Linked DNA regions of Homo sapiens. The protein of the gene in region 1 purifies or fractionates together with the protein of each later gene. This does not show direct contact. Each region holds a gene or a part of one and is shown in the gene's direction. Other genes may lie near its edges.

Evidence for each region.
Region 2: the proteins of PRELP (region 1) and FRAS1 purify together in Homo sapiens (affinity purification with mass spectrometry; one large-scale study listed by BioGRID and IntAct). This does not show direct contact.
Region 3: the proteins of PRELP (region 1) and SIL1 purify together in Homo sapiens (affinity purification with mass spectrometry; one large-scale study listed by BioGRID and IntAct). This does not show direct contact.
Region 4: the proteins of PRELP (region 1) and DHRS4 purify together in Homo sapiens (affinity purification with mass spectrometry; 3 studies listed by BioGRID and IntAct, with this or other methods). This does not show direct contact.
Region 5: the proteins of PRELP (region 1) and TSEN2 purify together in Homo sapiens (affinity purification with mass spectrometry, with the first as the bait; one large-scale study listed by BioGRID). This does not show direct contact.
Region 6: the proteins of PRELP (region 1) and PON2 purify together in Homo sapiens (affinity purification with mass spectrometry; one large-scale study listed by BioGRID and IntAct). This does not show direct contact.

The regions. Positions count from the first base shown.
Region 1 is NC_000001.11:203,478,793-203,482,574, forward strand, and holds part of PRELP (prolargin precursor), read left to right. Parts: intron 1-3,782. UniProt on the Homo sapiens protein: May anchor basement membranes to the underlying connective tissue.
Region 2 is NC_000004.12:78,445,323-78,449,104, forward strand, and holds part of FRAS1 (extracellular matrix organizing protein FRAS1 isoform 1 precursor), read left to right. Parts: intron 1-199; coding exon 200-390; coding exon of another isoform or gene 391-465; exon of another isoform or gene 466-1,311; intron 1,312-1,404; coding exon 1,405-1,558; intron 1,559-2,730; coding exon 2,731-2,994; intron 2,995-3,782. UniProt on the Homo sapiens protein: Involved in extracellular matrix organization. Required for the regulation of epidermal-basement membrane adhesion responsible for proper organogenesis during embryonic development. Involved in brain organization and function.
Region 3 is NC_000005.10:138,946,032-138,950,458, reverse strand, and holds the end of SIL1 (nucleotide exchange factor SIL1 precursor), read left to right. Parts: intron 1-2,985; coding exon 2,986-3,342; 3' UTR 3,343-3,735; downstream 3,736-4,427.
Region 4 is NC_000014.9:23,956,508-23,960,289, forward strand, and holds part of DHRS4 (dehydrogenase/reductase SDR family member 4), read left to right. Parts: intron 1-3,394; coding exon 3,395-3,496; intron 3,497-3,782. UniProt on the Homo sapiens protein: NADPH-dependent oxidoreductase which catalyzes the reduction of a variety of compounds bearing carbonyl groups including ketosteroids, alpha-dicarbonyl compounds, aldehydes, aromatic ketones and quinones.
Region 5 is NC_000003.12:12,531,561-12,534,182, forward strand, and holds the end of TSEN2 (tRNA-splicing endonuclease subunit Sen2), read left to right. Parts: intron 1-9; coding exon 10-99; intron 100-1,101; coding exon 1,102-1,161; 3' UTR 1,162-2,098; downstream 2,099-2,622.
Region 6 is NC_000007.14:95,428,299-95,432,080, reverse strand, and holds part of PON2 (serum paraoxonase/arylesterase 2), read left to right. Parts: intron 1-3,782. UniProt on the Homo sapiens protein: Capable of hydrolyzing lactones and a number of aromatic carboxylic acid esters. Has antioxidant activity. Is not associated with high density lipoprotein.

The DNA.
Region 1 (3,782 bases):
AGTCATCATGCCCCCATAAGGCTCCTTTGTTATCTCAGGACCACATCAGCCCTAATGGGGGCCTTGAAAGGGCCTCAGGCTCACTCCTCTACTAACTCTGCTCATAAATTGGCAAAGACTGCTTGATTCTCCCTGCTTCCAACACCCTTCTGGACTACAGGAAGAGATACAGAGAGCAGGATGGCTTTCAGACACCTAGGTTGAGAACAGAAAGAAGGGAAAAAAGAGAGAGGGGTGTTCCGACATTCACCGGCACAGCGCTAGGTCAGAAGCAGCCCCATTCTCCACTGCAGGGTAGCTCTGGGTCAAGGCATGGAGGCTTAGGGGTGACCAATTAGACAGGAGATCTGACAAGTAAGAAGAATGCCAGTTCAGAGTGCGGCGTAACCCTGCTGCTAGCCCTGCCTAGCCCTGGGAGACAAACCCAACCTCATTCCCAGCCCAACCTCAACCTCTCCATACAAAGCCAATTAGCCTTAAATAGCTGCTCCTAATGACTTGACCAACCCATCAGGACTTCCACCCAACCCTGCCCTGAGCAGAAACATTCCACCACTCCTGGGTTTTAACATTAAATTAATGAGAGAGATAGGGAAGGGGGCTATCTCACTTTAAAAATCAAGGAGTCCTTGGGGCGCTGTGGCTCATGCCTGTAATCCCAGCACTTTGGGAGACTGAGGAGGACAGATCACTTGAGCTCAGGGGTTGGAGACCAGCCTGGGCAACATGGTAAAACCCCATCTCTACAAAAAAGACAAAAATTAGCCAGCTGTGGTAGCACATGCCTATAGTACTAGCTGCTCAGGACGCTGAGATGGAAGGATCACCTGAGCCCAGGGAGGTTAAGGCTGCAGTGAGCTGTGATTGCACTACTGCACTCTAGCCTGGTCAACAAAGGGAGACCCTGTATCACCAAAAAAAAAAAAAAAAAAAAAAAAAAAAAATCAAGGAGTCTCTCTAGAGAATCTGCTGTTTATAAACAAATAAATGAGTAAGTAAGCCTCTGCCACTTGCAGAGATTTTGCACTTTATAACATGCCTTCAAATGCATGATCTCATTTGATCCTCACACAGATGAGGAGCCCGGGTTGGAGAGTCAGAGCCAGGAGTCAAGCCCAGATCCACAATAGTTGGAATTGAAATTAGAATTTAAAACTCTCTTAGAGGCTGGGTGCAGTGGCTCACACCTGTAATCTCAGCAATTTGAAAGGCCGAGGTGGGAGGATTGCTTGAGCTTAGGAGTTCAAGACCAGCCTGAGCAATACAGTGAGACCCCCATCTCATTTTTGTTTAAAGTGAAAAAAGAAAAAAAAATTAAGATTCTCTTAGGAAACGTTCTTTAATGTGGAGAGTGAATGTTGGGTTGGGCAAAGCAATTGCCTTTCTCTTCCGTGAAGCAGCAGCTTTTCCAGAACTGATGGTGGAGAGCAGAACTGCATGCAGTTGGCTGTTGTAGGTGGTCAACAAACCTTCACTGATTGAGCAATGAGCAGAGCCCAGTAGAAAGCTGTGGGTGGAGAAGTGCACTTGTGAAAGCATAAGAAAAATTTAAAAACACACACATGGACCCATCCTAAGGAATCTTATGATTGGACAGAAGTTTCTAGAAGGCAGGAGCATAGAGTGTGGGTCTGAGGCTTTGTAGGAGGGACTATGACTACCCATGGAGTCCAGGTACCCTCAGTCTGTCACACAGATTCTGGTTTCAGAGACCTAGGACATCACGGAGCACTGCCAGAGAGAATGGCTGTGCTGTCAGCTGTCAGAACTTTTCATCCTGCCTCATGGCAAAGCTCCGGCAGGAAGGGGCATCACCCCATGAGAAAAGCCTTAGAAATGAATGCTATTTCCTTAAGAGAGAAGCATCCCTGCACTTGGAATGGTTCTGATTCAGCCCTGGGGCTGAGGGAAGGGGAGGAGAGCAGGCTCAGCTTCCCCACATAACTTGCTCCTGGGAGCATTTCCTGGGGAACCTCCTGTTGGCTCTGGGAGCAGCTTGGCTAGGCCCAGAGGTTTGGAATGTAAACGGGTCAGAGGACTAGTGAAAAGATAAGTTCCCAAAGGGTCTGGTGCTGCACATGGGGATGAGGAAGGCCTGTGTTTACTGTGGATGAGAAGGCGCGCACAGCCAGCCTGCTGGGTGGAGCTGTGAGTAACCTGCCTGTTCCTCTCACCCCTGACAATGAAGACCAGGGCTGCCCTGGCACTGAGCCAAGGAAACCCCGCCCCGCCCAGCACAGGTCACAGCCACAGTGCCTCACTGCTTTTGCTGGAAGCCCTGGGCAAATTGGTGCCCAGTCCCTGGCATATGCTTTCGGTGACAAAGGCAATGAAGGGATATAGAAAAACTCCCGCCAGTGCTGGGAGCCTCCTTGGGACAGGGCTTCTCACAGTATGAAAGATTTCTAGATCATTTCTAGGCTTCTGGGTGATTAGAAAATAAATTTTTTTTTTTAAATCAGGGTCACAAAAATTGAGGCTTTTAGAAATGTTTGTTTTAGAATACCAATGCTTTAACTACCCCCTTAATTTATATGCAAGATGACTGTTCTGTTTTCCAGAAAATTACAGAACTTACACAATGTTAATTCATAGTTCACCAATTACAAGTGAAGTGGGGTTCAGCCAACAAGACTCAAGCTTAAAGTTTTGCAATTAATGCCTTCTCTTTTTAACCCTTGCAATGTATCTCTGACAATGTTATATCCTTAACGGGAGATCAAGCCAAAAACCTAACTGCAAGGTCCTTTGTGATAGGAGGCCAGGGAAAATGGCCTTCCAGACCTCCTTGGAGAGGCCTGCCTTGGAAGAGACCACCTTAGAGGGAGGTGGAGAAAGACAGTCTCTGCCTTCCTTCCCTTCCGCCTTCCTTCTTTCCTTCCAATACTCAGTGTACTGCGTATGGGCTCATATACGCACACAGAGGATAAGTGAGTGAGTTTGCTTATGTGCATGGGACCTGAAGAGGTGTGTGTGTGAGTGTGCAGACTGGATCTGCTGTTAAACAGCATCTTGGCCTTGGCGAGCCACTTCTTCCTTCCAGTCCTCAGTTTTTGCAAATGGTGGGGTCTGGAGTTGATTGGTGGATTTCAAGCCATTTTTAGCAAAGAAACGTGTCCCCTGCCCCTCAACAAATGAATGCTTCGGCTAAACCTCAATATATATAATAGGTTTTTTTAAAGAGAGCTGCTGAGGTTGGCACAGGGATGGGTTGAGGGTACCCCAGGGCCATCTCCTCAGTCTCCTCCCCACAGGGGTATGTCACAGAAATGAAAGCAGAGTTGGAAAACCACTAGGTTATAGGATCTTTAAGGACCTTTCTGGATTTAACCAGGACGCTAAGGTTCATACATCCTAACATCCCTCTCATGAAGACACTGATGATTTTCTCATGCTGTGAATGGGAGGACTGAGGGCCAGAGTGGTTAAGGGTCTTCTCTGACAAGCCCCAGGACTCCTGACTCGGAGTCCAGTGTGCTTTCTTTCTTTCTTTTTTTTTTTTTGAGAAAGAGTTTTGCTCTTGTTGCCCAGGCTGGAGTGCATTGGTGCAATCTCGGCTCACTGCAACCTCCTCCTCCTGGGTTCAAGCGATTCTCCTGCCTCAGCCTCCCAAGTAGCTGAGATTACAGGTGTCCAACACCACACCCTGCTAATTTTTTGTATTTAGTAGAGATGGGGTTTCTCCATGTTGGTCAGGCTGATCTCGAACTCCTGACCTGAAGTGATCCACCCGCCTTGGCCTCCCAAAGTGCTGGGATTACAGGCTTGTATGCCACTGTCCC
Region 2 (3,782 bases), on another chromosome or scaffold:
AGATGAGAAATAGTCAGTGAGGAAACGGATCTGACCCAGGCCTTCCAATTCCTGGTCTTGTGCTTATCCCACTCTCCCAACTTTATCCTCAAATACATTTTCTTTTTTTTTGCCGAAAATGATACCTTGTTTTCTAGTTCAGCCTAGTAAGCAGGAATTGATAGATCAAGGTAAAAATGCTCTCTTGATGTTGATGCAGGTGATCGTTTTGGCCCTGAAACTGCCAGTGACCTAGAGGCATCATTTCCTATTCAAGACGTCCTGGAAAACTACATTTACTACTTTCAGAGTGTTCATGAAAGCATTGAGCCAACCCATGATATTTTTAGTTTTTATGTGAGTGATGGAACCAGTCGTTCAGAAATTCACAGCATCAATATCACCATTGAGGTAAAGACTTTGGAAGTTGGAAAGGTTGAGCCCTTGACCACAATATTTCACACCATTAGAGAGCTTTCTTTATAGGGACTCAAAAGCAAAGAAGATTGGATTTGACCTTCAAAATTGAAGGTCGTTCTTAAAATATAGCCTTCAGGAATCTTGTAGAATTAAGGTTGGCATTTGGGGAAGGCTTGAGTTAGAAATCTAAATTTCCATTTCAGGATTGAATTTATTTGTTCGGTGTGAAAAACAGTTTGTGAAGGTCAGAGATGCTTTGCCAGTCTCATATATAAATGAAAACTTACATATGTCTATGTTTCTCTGAAATTGTGTTTGGTTCTATATGCATATTTGCCTTTTCTTATTTTACTGCATTTATTTATTTAATTGTAACATCAAAGAAATGTGTTCCTTGATGCTGTATTTATTCTCATTTGAGCAACTACACAGGCTTGCTCTACCGAGAGAGAGACACAGGGGAGGGGAAAGATAAATCTCAGAATGAAATACCCTCTGCCTTGGGAAAATAAAATGTAAAGAACCCTCTGCACTCTTAAGGGTCAGTGGTGGAAAGGGGCTGGCACCAGGGCAGGGAGACAGCTTTAGAGACCCACACTTTCAAATATAGTGTCCTTCTACAGGTACTGTGGTATGCTTAGCATTTTCTAAGAGAGTTCTGAGTTATATTAGTATGGTCTTTTATCTTCAAAGTATGTTAATACTTGTACTTGTCAAAGCACATATCCATATTTTTGGTCTAGAAAATATGGTCATTGTACTTACGGAAGATATCTGAGAAAACTTTTATGAAATGTCCATCAGCTTCTTTTGAAGGGGGCATTTTGTTGCCTGGACTTGCTCTCTTTTCAAACTAACTATTTTGCTTGGGAAGTAAAGATGGTGCCACATTAAATGCTATTTTGAGGTGAACATTTCTGTAGCAATGATACTGTCTCTGAATAATGTGCATTTTCTTTCTTCTTAAATATCTGTGTGAGATCTAATAGTTTATGCTTTAATCAGAGGAAGAACGATGAGCCTCCCAGGATGACCTTGCAGCCCCTCAGAGTGCAGCTGAGCTCGGGAGTGGTGATAAGCAATTCTTCTTTGAGCCTGCAAGACCTGGACACCCCAGATAATGAGCTCATTTTTGTATTGACAAAAAAGCCTGACCACGGTAGGGCACGAACTGCTATGAAAAGCTTCTTAATTGAGATGCCCGATGGGCTGTTAGAATAAACACAAATATTTCAGTTGACTATTTCTTTTCTTGTATATGGTACATTCTTTGCATCAAAGTGTAATCAAATTCACAGCTGGCTAATATTTTTTTGGAGTCCTGGTAGACATCAGTTGTTTAAGAAGCCTCAATCCCAGTTAATTGGTGTCTCTGAAGTTAAATTTCAGCCGTTTTTTTGCTTTTCTATGTAACCTTAAGCAAAAAAGTTTTCAGAATTTGCCTATTCTCTTCTCAGAGTTCCCATATTGTCTTCTCAGGGTAGACATCAGTGTTTAATAATCTTGAGCCATTTTATGTACCCTTGTAGAGGCATACTAGATGTCTTTATGAACTTGTTCCTTTTGTAAAAAAAAAAAAAAAACACTTTTCCTCATTTAAACCAGATGCAGAAGCCACTTTTGGGACCTTCTACCTACTTCTTTTTTTTAAGAGCCATCTCTCCAGTTATTGGCTAAAGTTCTGGAATGCAAGTGGTGTGTCTCAATTCATCGTAATGCTCATTGGTCTTTTAAAGATTAAATTGTTGCAGTAGATGAAGGGTTAATAGAAAAAACTGTTGGGCATTGTATTTTAGCTGGCTTCCATTCACTTTCGCTTTCTTGAATGAAGCACTTTGACTGTCCCACTGCGGTACATGACCCTTGAGAACAGAAATATATGCTTCAATCTAAAGATGCTTAGTGTCTCTCTTAATTGAAAAGGAATTTAAAGCATATTCTCATCTCTGCCTCTAGATGCCCTAAGAGAAAGACAGTGAGTGCTATTTTCACTTTGCAAAAGGGAAAAATAAGATTTAGATAATGAAGTGAGTTTAAATTCATGGAGGGAGATATGATTTGTAAGTCACTGTATTACCACATCCATCTGTGTCTCCTTAAGAGACTTTTTAGCTAGGATAAGTGGGACTTTGTCTTCTTTATTTGTGTATGAGGCCACAGAGCAGCACCCTGTGGTTATATGTAAAATGCTAAGCTGTTGGCACCAAGAGCCTCTGAGGCACTTGACATTCTACCCAGACTCATACTACTTGGAAAAATCAGACAATGTTTTGAATCATATATATATGTGTATTCTACCATTGTTTTGCTTTTCTTTACCTCTTCCCTCAGGTCATGTACTCTGGAGGCAAACTGCTTCTGAGCCTCTGGAGAATGGGAGAGTTTTAGTCCAGGGCTCAACCTTCACCTACCAGGATATCCTAGCTGGGCTGGTTGGGTATGTGCCTAGTGTCCCTGGCATGGTCGTGGATGAGTTCCAGTTCTCCCTCACTGATGGCCTCCACGTGGACACAGGGAGGATGAAGATCTACACAGAACTGCCTGCAAGTGACACACCTCACTTGGCTATAAACCAAGGCCTACAGCTCTCAGCAGGTACCACAGAAATAAAGGAGAGTGGCCATGGTTTTTCTATCCTTATTTCTTCTTTGTCCAGTATGCAGTACTTTCTTCCATGTTAGTGATGTGGGTGCATCTTAAAGTACCTGTTCCATACTTGGGGAGATTGGAGTCTTGGAAAACTATTGTTTTTGGGATACTAAGAATTGTTAGTGACAAATGTGAACCTCTAAAATTCTTTGGACCAAATGCTTATGTCTGTGAATTAGAGAAAAGATTGAGAAGAGTTTATAATATTTCCAGGGCCCTCAAAAATCTTAATTTATTCAACTCCTCCTAGGCCCAGGTTTCCTCTAACATTACTCCCATTCAACAAACCCCATGGAAACAAATAACGAAATATAGCAGAATTTTTAAGACGCTTATTTTTTTACAAAATGCATGGAGGGTAAGCTGGGAAACCATCATGCATTAAAAGTGATTATACAAATAATTGAGAATTATCAGATATGGTATTCTAGGGTTTAACATTCACAATTTTGCTCATGTTTAAGCAACATTGGAGGACCTGTGACAAGTGTGAGTCTTGAACAGTTTGCAGTAGGAAGTTACTTAATTAAGAAGTGGACCTTTTGCCCAGGGTGTCTGCATCTTACTAGAGTTCTGTTGTTTGTTTGTTCTTAGTTTCATGTGTATTTTGCAGTGAAAAATGTATGGTATAATAGTATTGGAAAACTTGGTAGTTCTCAAAGGTCTTAAATATCAAGTCTGAGATTTGACTTTATCCTACTTATAAGCTAATAAACTATCCTGTTACTGTTTCA
Region 3 (4,427 bases), on another chromosome or scaffold:
CCTCACTCCCTCTGCACACGCCTCCCCCAGGCCTTCTCTCCCAGGCAGTGTCGGGATGGCTGTGGCCACCTCTGTCCATCACTGTCTCTCCCCAACTCTCTGTCTTTGCCTGTTTCTCTCTCTTCTCTTGTTAAAGCTGCAGAAATCCAGTTTCTTAGAACAGCAGGCAGCCATGTGGTGCTCAGATCCAATTGATAAGGCCTGGGCACAGTTCAGGTTCTGGGACTGGGCCAGTGAGCCTGGAGAAGGACATGTCAGCTGGCTGGGCATTTCCCAGGGAAACTGGGCTCTGTTCTCTGGTGTCTTGGGTGTGTGTCCCTGCTGCCCCCAGCCCTGGCATCCTGGGCACTATGGCACTGACACATTGCTAGCACACTACCACCAGGCAGGCTCACCAAGGCTGCCCCGAGGCTGCCGGCCCCGGGAGCCTGCCTCTGGAAGCTTTGGGGTGCTGACATGATTGGGGAGGGGAGGACTGGCATCTCTCTACAAACAGTACAGAAATGGCCCTCTTCTTTCAGGGAGGACAGCAGATAAATTTCAGCCAGAGAGATTTAGGACACACTGTACTTGGGCTGAGGCAGTCAGGGCTTCTCTGTTCTTGTGATTTCTTTTTTCTTTTTTCTTTTCTTTTCTTTTTTCTTTTTTTTTTTTTTTTTTGAGACAGGGTCTCTCTCTGTCACCCAGTGGCACGATCTTGGCTCACTGTAAACTCTGCCTCCCAGACTCAAGTGATCCTCCCACCTCAGCCCCCTGAGTAGCTGGGACTACAGGTCCATGCCACCATGCCTGGTTAATTTTGTTCGTTTTTTGTAGACAGGGTCTCACTATGTTGCTCAGGCTGGTCTTGAACTCCTGGGCTCAAGCAGTCCTGCCTCAGCTTCCCAAAGTATTGGAATTATAGGCGTGAGTCACTAAGTCCAGCCTCTTGCAGCGCTTAAGAATGAAGACCTAGCCAAGCTAGGGGTGGGTCCAGAGCTGCCTGAAGGTGGAGGGACATGAGCTGTCCACCACGATGGAGGGGTGCCATGCAGCTCGGGGATCACTGCAGCATGTTGTCATGACAGCCAAGGACTGTGGAATTCCCATGGGCAATGTGACACCCCCATCAGGGTGCTGGGGTCTGCCAGGCCCCAGGCAGTCCTCATATGTACCTTGGCCTGTGAGAGGACCTCTACTGAGAGACCATGCCCTGACATCTGGGCTTCTGCAGTGGTGAGATGCCTGCCTGGGGTTTGGATTCCATGGCCTCTGGTGCATCTGAGGAGCTGAAGGGCCGCAGGGGGACCCTGCCTGCCTGTGCTGCCTGCTGTGCCGGGTGCTGGGAAAATAATCCGCAGTCCCTGTCGTCCCTGAGCTTTCAGGCAGATGTTTATCAGAGAATTCCCCTGAGCTTGTGTTGTAGTCTGTCTGCTGCTGCTTTAACAGAATACCCGGGACTGGATAATATAAAGAAAAGGCAGTTTTTGGCTCATGATTCGGGAGGCTGGGAAATCCACGATTGGGTGGGTGCATCTGGCGGGAGCCTTTGTGTTGCATGACAACATTGTGGAAGGTGAGAGGGCAAGAGCACTTGCGGAAAAAAGCATGCTGGGCCGGGCTTGCTCTCTAGAATAACAACCGCTCTCCCGTAAGGAACCCGCTGCCCTCCTGACCTAGGCAGCTCCTCTCAATACTGCTGCCTTGGGAATTAAGCTTCCAACACTTGAACTTTTAGGGAACACACTCAAACCACAGCAGCATATAAGCAGAGAAGGCCAGTCAGGGGAGGCCGGTCAGTGGCGGTGAGGTGTGCAGGGAGCCGTGGAGTGAATGGGGCCAATGCGGGGGTGCACCTGGAAGTCGGAGCTGCGCCTCCAGAGGCCCCAGGGGAGAGTTAGAGTGACAGGAGTGGGTGTGAGTGGGTCCAGGCCGCGCACAGTGGGGGCAGAGCCTGCAGAGCCTCGCAGTCCCAGGGAAGGGATTGATTTTGTCTTTATCACCCGCAATGCCAGGCTGTGAGGGTTTGGGGGCTGGAGGAGAGGGTGAGAGCAGGAGGCACTGGATCGCAGGACACAAGGGACAAAGGTGGAGCTGACAGAATTGGGGTGTGTTTTGGAAGCGAAGCTGGCAGGACTGAGGGGTGAAGTAGGAAAGGACTAGGGGATACCTCTCAGCCTCTCCTGTCCCAGGATGCAGGATTGCACCCCTCCTCAGTTTCCTCTGCCAGCCCCAATCAGCCCCACGACTTCCTGCTGCCGCAGGAAGCACAGGTGGTCCACTGTGGCCTCCTCTTCTCCTGGGCTTCCCTCTTGCCTTGTGCATCTTCCCTGTGCTTCATTCTCCCCTGGAGTTAGGGCAGGCATTCCTTCTTTCTCCATACAGGCACACTTCCTACAGCTGCACGGGAGATCTCTGCCCCCTCCCAACCCTCTACCTCTGACCTTCAGGTAACCTGCCTGCTTGTCATGGTTCAGGTGTTGGCTTTCCCGCTGCTGGTAGCCCGGCAGGATTGGCTCCCACCATGTTCTGCTGATAGAGCTGGGCTTCTGCGCTTTACAGACAGGCTGAGTTTCTCCACTTAGGAGGTGATGACGATGAGTCTCAGGGAGGCTAAGTGCCAGCCATGGTCATTCAGCAAGTCAGTGGTGGAGCAGGAATTTGAAGCCAGCCTGTCTGCCTCCATGCTGCACTGTTAGATTACATTTATGCTATTTGGGAATTAGTTAATTTTTATTCTCCTGCTAGACCTTAAGCTCCTTGAGGGTAAGACTATGTCTCCATCGTGGTTTCTTCAGCACCTGGCACCACACAAGTGTTTCTGTTGGTGGATGAATGAATGAATAGACAGACAGACTTGGGGATAGAGGAAGAGGTGGGCCCTCAGGGGTCAGCCTCGTGCCTTCCTGTCTGAAGGGCAGAGCTAGCCAGGTGTGAGCTAACTGCTCCCTGTGTGTTCTCTCCCCACCCCCACCCTACCTGGCCTGCGGCTGTGGCGGATGGCAGATGTTCGCCGAGGAGGAGGCTGAGCTGACCCAGGAGATGTCCCCAGAGAAGCTGCAGCAGTATCGCCAGGTACACCTCCTGCCAGGCCTGTGGGAACAGGGCTGGTGCGAGATCACGGCCCACCTCCTGGCGCTGCCCGAGCATGATGCCCGTGAGAAGGTGCTGCAGACACTGGGCGTCCTCCTGACCACCTGCCGGGACCGCTACCGTCAGGACCCCCAGCTCGGCAGGACACTGGCCAGCCTGCAGGCTGAGTACCAGGTGCTGGCCAGCCTGGAGCTGCAGGATGGTGAGGACGAGGGCTACTTCCAGGAGCTGCTGGGCTCTGTCAACAGCTTGCTGAAGGAGCTGAGATGAGGCCCCACACCAGGACTGGACTGGGATGCCGCTAGTGAGGCTGAGGGGTGCCAGCGTGGGTGGGCTTCTCAGGCAGGAGGACATCTTGGCAGTGCTGGCTTGGCCATTAAATGGAAACCTGAAGGCCATCCTCTTTCTGCTGTGTGTCTGTGTAGACTGGGCACAGCCCTGTGGCCGGGGGGTCAGGTGAGTGGTTGGGTGATGGGCTCTGCTGACGTGCAGGGCTCAGCCCAGGGCATCCAGGAACAGGCTCCAGGGCAGGAACCTGGGCCCAGGAGTTGCAAGTCTCTGCTTCTTACCAAGCAGCAGCTCTGTACCTTGGGAAGTCGCTTAATTGCTCTGAGCTTGTTTCCTCATCTGTCAGGAGTGCCATTAAAGGAGAAAAATCACGTAGAAAGCTTCACACTAGTGCTGGCACCCCCCAGCTGTGAGGTAAGGCAGGGAATCATCTCACTGCCCCTCTATCGGTGCCCACATAACAGCCTCAAGGCCGCTGACCTGGCCGGCGCCTGAGGCCTGTCCATACACTGGTGCTGTGGTGACCCAGGCAGCTGATGGGCTTGACAGCTGCTGGAGTGATGGGTGCTGGAGCAATGGGTGCCGGGGTGGGGTGCTGAGAGGTGCTGGACTCTGGAGGCCCAGGGGCCAGGCCTTACTCTGGGAGAAAGCTGGCAGTGGGAGCCCAGGGGAGCCCAGGCCTGCCTGGCCCACCTGACAGGGGAGAAGTGCCTCTCTGTGGCCTTGCACCACTTCTGTGTCCAAGCAGAAACAGGGCCAAGCCCAAGGAGGAGGCCTCAGAGCTGGGAGCAGCCGTGCCTGGCGAGTCCCGGCCCCTACCCAGGCTGGCGGAGTCCCGGGCTGGAGCTGGCTGCAGGTTGCCATGGCAACCCGGGCTCTGGGCTTTTCAGACTCGGATTCTGGTGTGTTTGTTTCTCAGCTTTCCCAGTGCACCAGAGGCTTGCTCTTGCGGGCCCAGGCAGCCCCTCCGGCCCCCAGGTGGTAAAGTCGGGAGGGCCAGTCTGGGGCAGGACTCTCCTCTCCCTGGCTCTAGGCCTCACTTGTAGAAATCTCAGTTTTACTGAGCT
Region 4 (3,782 bases), on another chromosome or scaffold:
CACTGTCAGGCCACAGTGGAGAGCACAGGCTCAGGAGTACTGCTGGGGAAGGGGCTGCATTGGAAAGATAGAGGCCATGGGCCTCCATATCCTTTTTTTTTTTTTTTTTTTTTTGAGACAGAGTTTCATTCTTGTTGCCCAGGCTGAAGTGATATGGCACAATCTCAGCTCACTGCAACCTCCGCCTCCAGGTTCAAGCAATTCTCATGCCTCAGCCTCCCGAGCAGCTAGGATTACAGGCATCCACCACCACGTCCAGCTAATTTTTGTATTTTTGGTAGAGACAGGGTTTCACCATGTTGGCCAGGCTGGTCTTGAACTCCTGACCTCAGGTGATCCACCCCCTCGGCCTCCCAATGTGCTGGGATTACAGGCGTGAGCCACTGTGCCCGGCCATAGCTTCTTAAAAGGATACGTTAAGGACCTTAAAAGGATATGGCCTCTTAAAAGGATATGTTTACACACCCTTGTAGCAAATAAGAAGCCATGTGAGGTTTTGAGCAAGAGAAAGATGGTTATTAGGAAAGCTAATCTGGCTCTGGTAGGAAGGATATACAGAGGAGACACCGAATCCAGGGCATCAGTGAGGAAGCTGTTGCTGTCCTCCAGGTTTAGAGCAGTGGCGGTGGGACTGGAATAGATGTGCCCAAGAGACATTCAGTGGAAACGAACCAAGATTTTCCAACCCCATGTCAAAAAGTGGGAAATAGAGAAGTCAAAAATGACTCTCAAGTAGTTTGTATGACCATTGTCAGAGAGGAGAATGATAGAATACTTGTCAGCAATTTGAAATGTCTTCTGCCAGTTGCCACATGTTACCCTGCAATGAGAAAAGCCACTTTCCTGAGAATGGATACTACCCAGTGGCCTCCTCATCTGGACACCACGAAGCTTCTCACTGGTGTTGTAAGTGGAAACCAGAGTAGCTGCCTATCTCCTTGATTATATTTTTTCTTAAAAATGTATAACTATCAGAACACAGAACAAACAGCTCCTAACCGCTTTGGTGTAGTGATCACACAATTTAGAATAAGACTTAGAAGACTTTCCTTTTTTTTTTTTTTCCAGAGACAGGGCCTCCTTCTGTTGCCCAGGCTGCAGTGCAGTGACATGATCATAGCTCACTGTAACCTCGAAGTCCTGAACTCAAGCAATCCTCCCACCTCAGCCTCCCAAGTGGCTAAAACTATAGGCATGCACCACCACACCAGTTCATTTTTTAAATTTTTTGTAGAGTTGGGGCTGTATTTCCCAGGCTGTTTTGAACTCCTGGCCTCAAGTGGTCCTCCCCACTGGGCCTACCAAAGTGCTAGGATTATAGGTGTGAGCCACCACACCCAGCCTCATTCATCTTTTATGGTTTGCTGTCTCTGTTCAATCAAAACCCAGCCTCCTCCCATCTCTGTGCTGACAGACCTGGAAGGAGAGGAGTATGGGGTATACAGCAGAGTAGAAAATGTCTCCAGGTGATTCTAGAGCAATCCATTGTCTCCTCCCAGCCCAAACACATGTGTACTGAGCACGGCGCACATCACTTATTAACTTACTCTGCACCTCCCTAGTAACAAGTCCATTGGTGAGACTTACACAGAGCCAAGGCAGGTGACTTGGCTTTGTGCCAGGATACCAAAATTTAAAGGGTGCAAGAAAGTATTAATACTGGTTTTAAAAGATTATGTGACTGTAAATTTTGTTAGATTTACACATTGACAGCCCAGCATTCCTTCAACTGTCTAGAAACAACTGAGCTTAGCACCTAGTTAACAAGAATAATTAGTTAAAACGGGAAGCTAGCAGATGGTGTACATTGTTAGTAACACCCCTCTGTGTGCCAAATCCGGAGCACAAAGTTGACCGAGGGCCCGTGTACTGCAACTTGCCCAAGGCATCAAAATTGCCAGTTCCGGGCAAACGGAAAGTCTGGTTTCAGGGTGGCTTTGTACTGAAAACCCTTGTTGGCAGATTCTGCTTGGCCATTCATTACTCTAGCACAGGCCTCACTATCTACTTATAACTTATTAAGGAGGTGAGATGTTGCCTTTCTTCGCCTTCTCAATTTAAATTTCAGTTTCTGCCTTGAATCTTTCATGCCTCCAGGTCAAAAGAGAGAGACAGAGACAGGGAAAATGACATCATAACCAAATATGGAATTGCTTTAAATTCAGGCTGGTATCTTCTCCCATCACGGCTCTCCTGGGCAACCAGTTTCCTGATGACCCCAACTCACTTTCAGAGGGCTCTTATGAATTAGCTCTGTGCTACAAAGTGGGAGACTGACCTCAGTTCTTCCACCACTAACTAGCTTTGTGCCCTGAAAACATCACTTCACCCCTCCCAAACACAGAATAAGCAGGCCTCCTGTTCTTACCTAGCCCCAGTGTGCCACTACTGAACTATAAGATCTTGAGAAAATTCTCTGAACCTATTTCATCATCTCCACCTTAAGGACACTGGAATAGATGATCTCAAAGGCCCCTCCAGGGTAACTTTCTACAGCTCTATTTAAGCCAGTTTTTCCATTCAGGTAAGTGTGGACAGATTGACTTTGAGATAATGGTAACTTATTCAAGGAGAACTGGACAGTAAGCACTTGGAGAAATGTGGGTGGAACTCAGTGTGAAAGGAAGAGGAGGGGTCTGGAAATAGATTTTGGGGTGAGACTTGAAATCATGAGAATGAAGGAGCTTCCCAAAGGGGAAGTGTAAAGAAAAGAGCGTCAGAGACAGCCTTGGAAGAATAGGAGGTGGGAAGAAAACACTGCAAAAGAAATAGGGCCAACTTCCTGGTGGGTCGCGCCTGTAACACTTTAGGATACTGAGGCAGGTGGATGGCTTGAGCCCAGGAGTTCCAGACCAGCCTGGGCAACATGGCAAGACCCTGTCTCTATAAAAAATACAAAAATTGCCCGGGTGTGGTGGCACGCACTTGTAGTCCCAACTACTTGGGGGGCTGAGCCAAGAGGATGGCTTGAACCCAGTAGGTCAAGGCTGCAGTGAGCTGAGAACATGCCACTGTGCTCCAGTCTGGATGACAGAGCAAGACTCCGTCTAAAAAAGAAAGAAGCCAACCTTAAATGGTTAGCGGCAGATCTTAGGGTAGTTTTCAAAAAAGATGTTTTAAGAAATAGAAGTTATTTTGACGATAGTTCCTAAGTAGGAAGATTTTGTTGTCATTGTTGTTGTTGTTTTTAATATAAAGATAAGGTCTCGCTGCATGGCCCAGGCTTCTCTCAAACTCCTCAGCTCAAGTGAGCCTCCCACCTTGGCCTCCCAAAGTGCCATGATTACAGGCATGAGCCACAGCTCCTTGCCCAGAAGGAAGTTTTTATCAACATGGGTAAATGCACCTCCCTTACTTACTGCAGCCCTGGTCCAGAACTTACCCCTCTCTCTAGGCTGTGAAGCTTCATGGAGGTATCGATATCCTAGTCTCCAATGCTGCTGTCAACCCTTTCTTTGGAAGCATAATGGATGTCACTGAGGAGGTGTGGGACAAGGTGAGAGGGGATTAAAGCAGGGGGGCCGGGGGGGGCGCCTTGGAACACATTCAGCACAAACTCCATCTGCTTTTAGAATGCATTTCTCAAGGGCAGTGTAAATGTGAGGACTCTTTGCCACGTGCCACACACCTGGAGCACACCTTGCAAAGGGCGGGTGGGGGTGGCTCTATCCCTGCCCTTCTCATTCGTTTCTGCTACTCCTAGTTCTCTCTGCTTCTATCTGCTCTTCACTAGCCACAGTCTGCTCCTCTCCCCAGGCTTTTTCCCTGGCATGCTCTTCTGC
Region 5 (2,622 bases), on another chromosome or scaffold:
TCTCAATAGGAACTTATGCTGTGCTATTTGATTAAACCCTCTACTATGACTGACAAGGAAATGGAGTCACCAGAATGTATGAAAAGGATTAAAGTTCAGGTGGGTAAACTCAGAGAAATTCATGTCATCCCAAAGATTCTGTGAATCATAGTGTATCTGGAACATGTGGTCCCAAGAAAATACATGAATACAGTTTTGCCTTGGTAACAGAGCCTTCTCAGGCAGGCTCTTAAGTCTCTCACCTTTTCCCCATTGAACCCATTGGACACGAAATCTATGCTGACTTCCTCTATTCCTTAATTCCCCACTTTATTACCTGTGATGTCCCCATCACTCAGCTGAAACTGCTCTCTTACAGGTGGCCTGTGACCCCCTGGCCAGGCCAGGACTTCTCACAGGTCTCATTCCCAGAGACCAGAGGTGTCCCTGTTGACTTGTTCCTGCTTCTGGGCTTCTGTATTGAACCAAGGCGCCTCCTGTCATCTTGGCTTGTTTCTCTCTGGTCTGGCCGAGTTGTCTAGTGTGTGTCCGTGTTTCTGCATTCCCTCCCTCTGTGTGTAGAGCCTTAACGTTGCCATTGGCTCCTCCCAACATCCAGTATGTCTTTGTTGTCGTCCTGTCTTCTTTTCACACCACCCTGCCCCTGCAGACCTGCTGGTCGGTCTCCAGGGCCCCAGCACGTCTTCCCTTCAGTTGGTCCCACTTATCTCCACTAGGCTAGTTTCTCATAAAATGCTCATCAACCTCATTTCTCCCTTCTCAGTAGCTGGCCCCGTTACAGCAATGCCATCACAGACCTAGCTCTAATGTAAAATGCTAGCTTTCATCCCGCCCACCTGTTTCTGAAATGTGCTAGTAGAATACCACAGCAGAGGCAAGCTTAGCTGTTAAAATCTTTGCCTGGTGAAAGTAGATACTGTATGCTTGTAAGGTTTATATTGTTACATTCATTTTCTCCAGATGTTTCTGTTCTAAAGGTGGGAACAGTATCATCATTATATAGACCGCCCTTTGTGAAATGTAGCTGTGGTGTCAGCTGTGGTGTCAGAATGGTCTTACATTTCTGTTTTAAGAAATGGTCTTTTTTTTTATTGGTTGTAGGAGGTGATTCTGAGTCGATGGGTTTCTTCACGAGAGAGGAGTGACCAAGACGATCTTTAACAATTCAACCTCAAATTTCTAATTTCACCAACAACTATTTATTGAGGGCTAGGTAAAAAGTTCTTTTTGTTGTAATCGTCCATTAATTCATAAGTTTTAAAGGGCATGGTGCTCCCAGCACCAGAAAACTATCAGTGTTTTTAAAGATAAATTACACAAGGGAGGAGAAAGATCCCTGTGCTAGGACTGCAGATTCTATACTTGCGTTGGCCTCTAACTCTCCAATCCAGAGCCTCCTGCCTCTGGCGTCAGTCTTTTCCCTCATCCACTCACTGGGGAGATTGGACTAGAGGAGTCCTGAGAGGACACTTCCAACAAGAGACATTTATTCTCTGATTTTACCTGAAAATGGTAGTAGTTTACATTTATACAGTACAGTTTATGAAGCACTTTCATACGCAGGCATCTCTTGTTACCTACATCTAAGCTGTTCCCGAAAGAGTGTTACAGAACACAACAGTATTGTACAATATTCGATAAGCATATCTTCACTGCACTTGTTATAAAAATGAGTGGTGAAATAATGTTTGGAGACATAATGAAAGCGATTAACATTTGGCAAAATATAATAAAGCCTTTTTGTAATTGGTGAGAAAGTCATGAAGACTTAAGTTGCCTCAGGGCATCTGGTGGCAAGAGGAGGGAGATGGGTGGCTGGGCATGGTGGCCCATACCTATAATCCCAGCACTTGGGAGGCCTTGGGAGGCCAAGGCGCATGGATCGCTTGAGCCCAGGAGTTGGAGACCAGCTTGGGCAACATGGTGAAACCTCCTCTCTACTAACAAAAATTATCCAAGCATTGTAGCACATGCCTGTAATTCCAGCTGCTCAGGAGACTAAGGTAGGAGGATCGCTTGAGCCCAGGAGGAAGAGGTTGCAGTGAGCGGAGATTGTGCCACTGCAATCCAGCCTGAGCAATAGAGCAAGGTCCTGTCTCAAAAAAAAAAAAAAAAAAAAAAAAAAATGTGGGTGGTGGGGAAATGGGAAGGGGGAATACTTGCTCTTCGGTGGTAGAATACTTAGGCTAAGGTGGTAGCCTGAGCTGTATCCTCTTAATGGGTCCAGACACTACTTGAATGATATTGCTGCAAACCCTTACATGTTTGTTATATTTAATTTGGATAGCCAATATGGGGTAAAATATTTTGCAAACCGTGATAGCAAACATTTGGAGAGTGGGAGTTGAGATGCGGCAGATGCCTGTGTATTTATCCCTGCAGCAGCCTTGTGAATTCAGGAGGAGGGACCCACAGAGGGGTGTTTGAAGCTCAGAGATGTTGGCGGGTGTGCATCACTACCAGTCATGCACGTGGAGGACTGGACCTGAGATCACTATCTCAGCTGAAATGGCGCTATCCTAAAAATTGCATGCAGTCAGAAATAGAGCCCTGTTTGGTGGTGGTGGTGGTTAACAAGGAAGGCCACCCACCACATCGGGCAGGGCCAGCTTTGTGCTCCCA
Region 6 (3,782 bases), on another chromosome or scaffold:
TTAATGGGCAGTGACTTTATAAAATGGTAACTTTATTGGATATGTGGAGCCCCAAATGGGCTGACGTGAGAATGTTGGGGTAGGTGGTGGGTGGCTGGATTTAGCAAAGAAAAATGTAGGCTACCCAGTTAACTTTGAATTTCACATGGATTTTTTTTTTTTTTTTTAGTATAAGCATGAAATACTTATACCATACTTTTAGCATTAAGCGTGGAATTTGGGACATAATTATACTAAAATATCATTCATTGTTTATCTCAAATTAAAATATCACTGGGTACCCTGTATTTTATCATATGTTCGAGTGCCTTCTGTCAGAATTTGGTGACCCTTTGAGTCTGTTTTAAAAAGGAGCATGTTTGGCCGGACACAGTGGCTCACGTCTGTAATCCCAGCACTTTGGGAGGCTGAGGCGGGCAGATCACTAGAGGTCAGGGGTTCAAGACCAGCCTGGCCAACATGGTGAAACCCCGTCTCTAATAAAAATACAAAAATTAGCCAGGTGTGGTGGTGCATCCCTGTAATCCCAGCTACTTGGGAGGCTGAGTCAGGAGAATTGCTTGAACCCCAGAGGTAGAGGTTGCAGTGAGCCAAGATTGAGCCACTGGACTCCAGCCTGGACAACAGAGAAAGACTCCCTCAAAAAAAAAAGAAAAAAAGCATGTTCCCACCTCCCCATAAGGAAAGGCTCTTCAGAGGAAGTTGAAGGAACAGAGGCTTTATGTTTGATTTTTGCTTTAATCTGATGCCTACTGTTTGATTATTCAATATTTAGAGATGGTACTTTGGCAATCAAGTTATTTCTCTCCCCAGGTTGCCCACTTCAATTTTTAGTATAAGGATGTCCCAGAGGGATAAATGCCATCAAAGTTGTCTTTCTTCTTCTGAACTGTAACTGGGATTCCACACCCTCCTTTTCCACCCCTCCCTAGTTGAGCAATAAAGGGGAAAATAACAGTATACAAATATTCCCAGGCCAGTTCCTGGTGTCAAGGTACACAGCCATGGATGAATCATGAGGCTTGAGTGCATCAGAGACCTAAGCGTGGGCAGGAACCCCCAGAGTACCCATGTGAATGTTCTGCTTGCTGCCTCGCACCTTTTATGACAATTCCCACAAGAAGCTATGTGGTCTGTTTCTACTTCTGAAAGAGCAGCCTTTTTCCCTTTTTTTTTTTTTTAAACCACCATCCTTTAAATCATTTATTATGTAACTCTTGTGTGCTGGTCAGTCAGTGTGTCAAAAGTGTAAAAACTTCTTTATTTATTTTTTTAATCTATCTTTTAAAAAATATTTTCTTTCTTTTTTTCTTTTTTCTTCAAGGCAGGTTCTTGCTCTGTCACCCAGGCTGGAGTGCAGCAGCACAATCATAGCTCATTGTAACCCAGAACACCTGGGCTCAAGCAATCCTCCCACCTCAGCCTCCTAAGCAGTGAGGACTATAGGCATGCACCACTACACCTGGCTAATTAAAAAAACATGGCCGGGCACGGTGGCTCATTACTATAATCCCAGCACTTTGGGAGGCTGAGGCGGGTGGATACCTGAGGTCGGGAGTTCAAGACCAGCCTGACCAACATGGTGAAACCCCATCTCTACTAAAAATACAAAATTAGCCAGGCACGGTGGCACATGCCTGTAATCCCAGCTACTCAGGAGGCTGAGGCAGGAGAATCACTTGAACCCGGGAGGCGGAGGTTGCAGTGAGCCATTGCACTCCAGCCTGGCAACAGAGCGAGACTCTGTCTCAAAAAAAAAAAAACAAAAAAATTTTTTTGTAGAGATGGGGGTCTTGCTGTGTTGCCCAGGCTGATCTCAAACTTCTAGCCATAAGTGATCCTACCGCATCAACTTCCCAAAGCACTGGGATTATGGGTATGAGCTACTGAGCCCTGCCAAATTTCTTTATATTAAACCAAAACGTACATTTACTGATATTTGGAAAGAAAGCTCTTTTACTTTTATGCCTTCATCCAGTCTTCATAGATATCTTCCCTTTTACATTATAACTGTAAATACTGAGGTTAGAGAGGTTAACTAGTTAGTTCAACAGAATAATATAAATATTGAATAATATAATTAATGAATAATTAGTGCTGAACCTGTCGCCTCAGCCAGGTCTCCTGATTCCAAATACAGTTTGCCCCAGCTCCCCACAGTCTTCTAGCTTCTCTGCCAGTGGAGCAAATTTTCCCTAGGTTTACAGGCCTAAGCACAGATTCTTAGTTACTTAGTGCAAGTATTGCCAGAGCCCAAGGGGTGAATTCCAAAGGGTTTTTACAAGGCTATACATAAAAGATAAAGCCCTGGCTTGTATATCACTTGCACATAGGAGATAAAGCCCCAGCAGTTGTATGTAAATTTCAAAAGCAGAGAAGTATGGCACAAAGAAACTCCTGATAGTAACACTGTGTTCCCACTTTGCTTAGGGGCATATTGGCACCGTAGCATGGTACACCCTTACTGCTACCTGCCATGAGGCCAGATAATAGCTAGCAGCCCCTGGTCTCATTCTACTCTGGATGGGTACTGCTGTTTCCTGAATGAAAGACACTGAGATTGATTTCATGCTAATGACTGTTGGTTAAGAGTTCATGCTTTCTATTCACAATAGCAAAGACTTGGAACCAACCCAAATGTCCGTCAATGATAGACTGGATTAAGAAAACGTGGCACATATACACCATGGAATACTATGCAGCCATAAAAAAGGATGAGTTCATGTCCTTTGTAGGGACATGGATGAAGCTGGAAACCGTCATTCTTAGCAAACTATTGGAAGGACAGAAAACCAAACACCACATGTTCTCACTTATAGGTGGGAATTGAACAATGAGAACACTTGGATACAGGAAGGGGAACATCACACACCGGGGCCTCTTGTGGGGTAGGGGGAGGGGGGAGGGATAGCATTAGGAGATATACCTAATGTAAATGACGAGTTAATGGGTGCAGCAGACCAACATGGCACATGTATACATATGTAACAAACCTGCACGTTGTGCACATGTACCCTAGAACTTAAAGTATAAAAAAAAAAAAAAGTTCATGCTTTGTGGACAGGTAGCCTGAGTTCATTCATAGCTCTACTATTTACCTGAAACCTTGGACTAATTATTTCACTTTTCTGTGCCCCAGTGTTGTAATCTGTAGGATGGGGTACTGCCTGCTCCACAGTGGGACTATGAGAATGCTTAAAATAATGCCAAGCGCACAGTCAGCTCAATAAATGTCATCTATGTAGACAATGAAATTCAAGCATAATTCCTTAAACCTTTGTGCCATACATCCCTTTGGCAGTCTGGTAAAGCCTTCATTCCTTCTCAGCATCATGTTTTTAAATGAGTAAAATAAAATATATAGGATTACACAGGAAACCAATTAAATACTGCTACCAAGCTATTTAAAAATCTATGATATAATATGCTTTTTAAATTAAACCCTTAAATGGATCTAGAGGTAGGTAAATGTCTAACAGCAGATATTTTGAAGTTGCAATGAATGTAAATGGCACTTTGAGCTATCTACAACTGAAATGCGATAGAAAAGTATCTATAATTTCTATTAGTGACAGTCACAAATACTACTAATAGTATTGTGGTTTGTTGCTTATACTCATCATCAAAGGAAATACTCAATTTGAGTTAAAGGTTTAAATAAAGATGTATTTTTCCCCCATCCAAGTTCATGGATCCCTGAATTCTACCCATGGATTCCTTGGTCACTGGACTCCATAGGGGTCACTTGGGGAATGATTGTGACACCAATGAAGGAAGCCAGC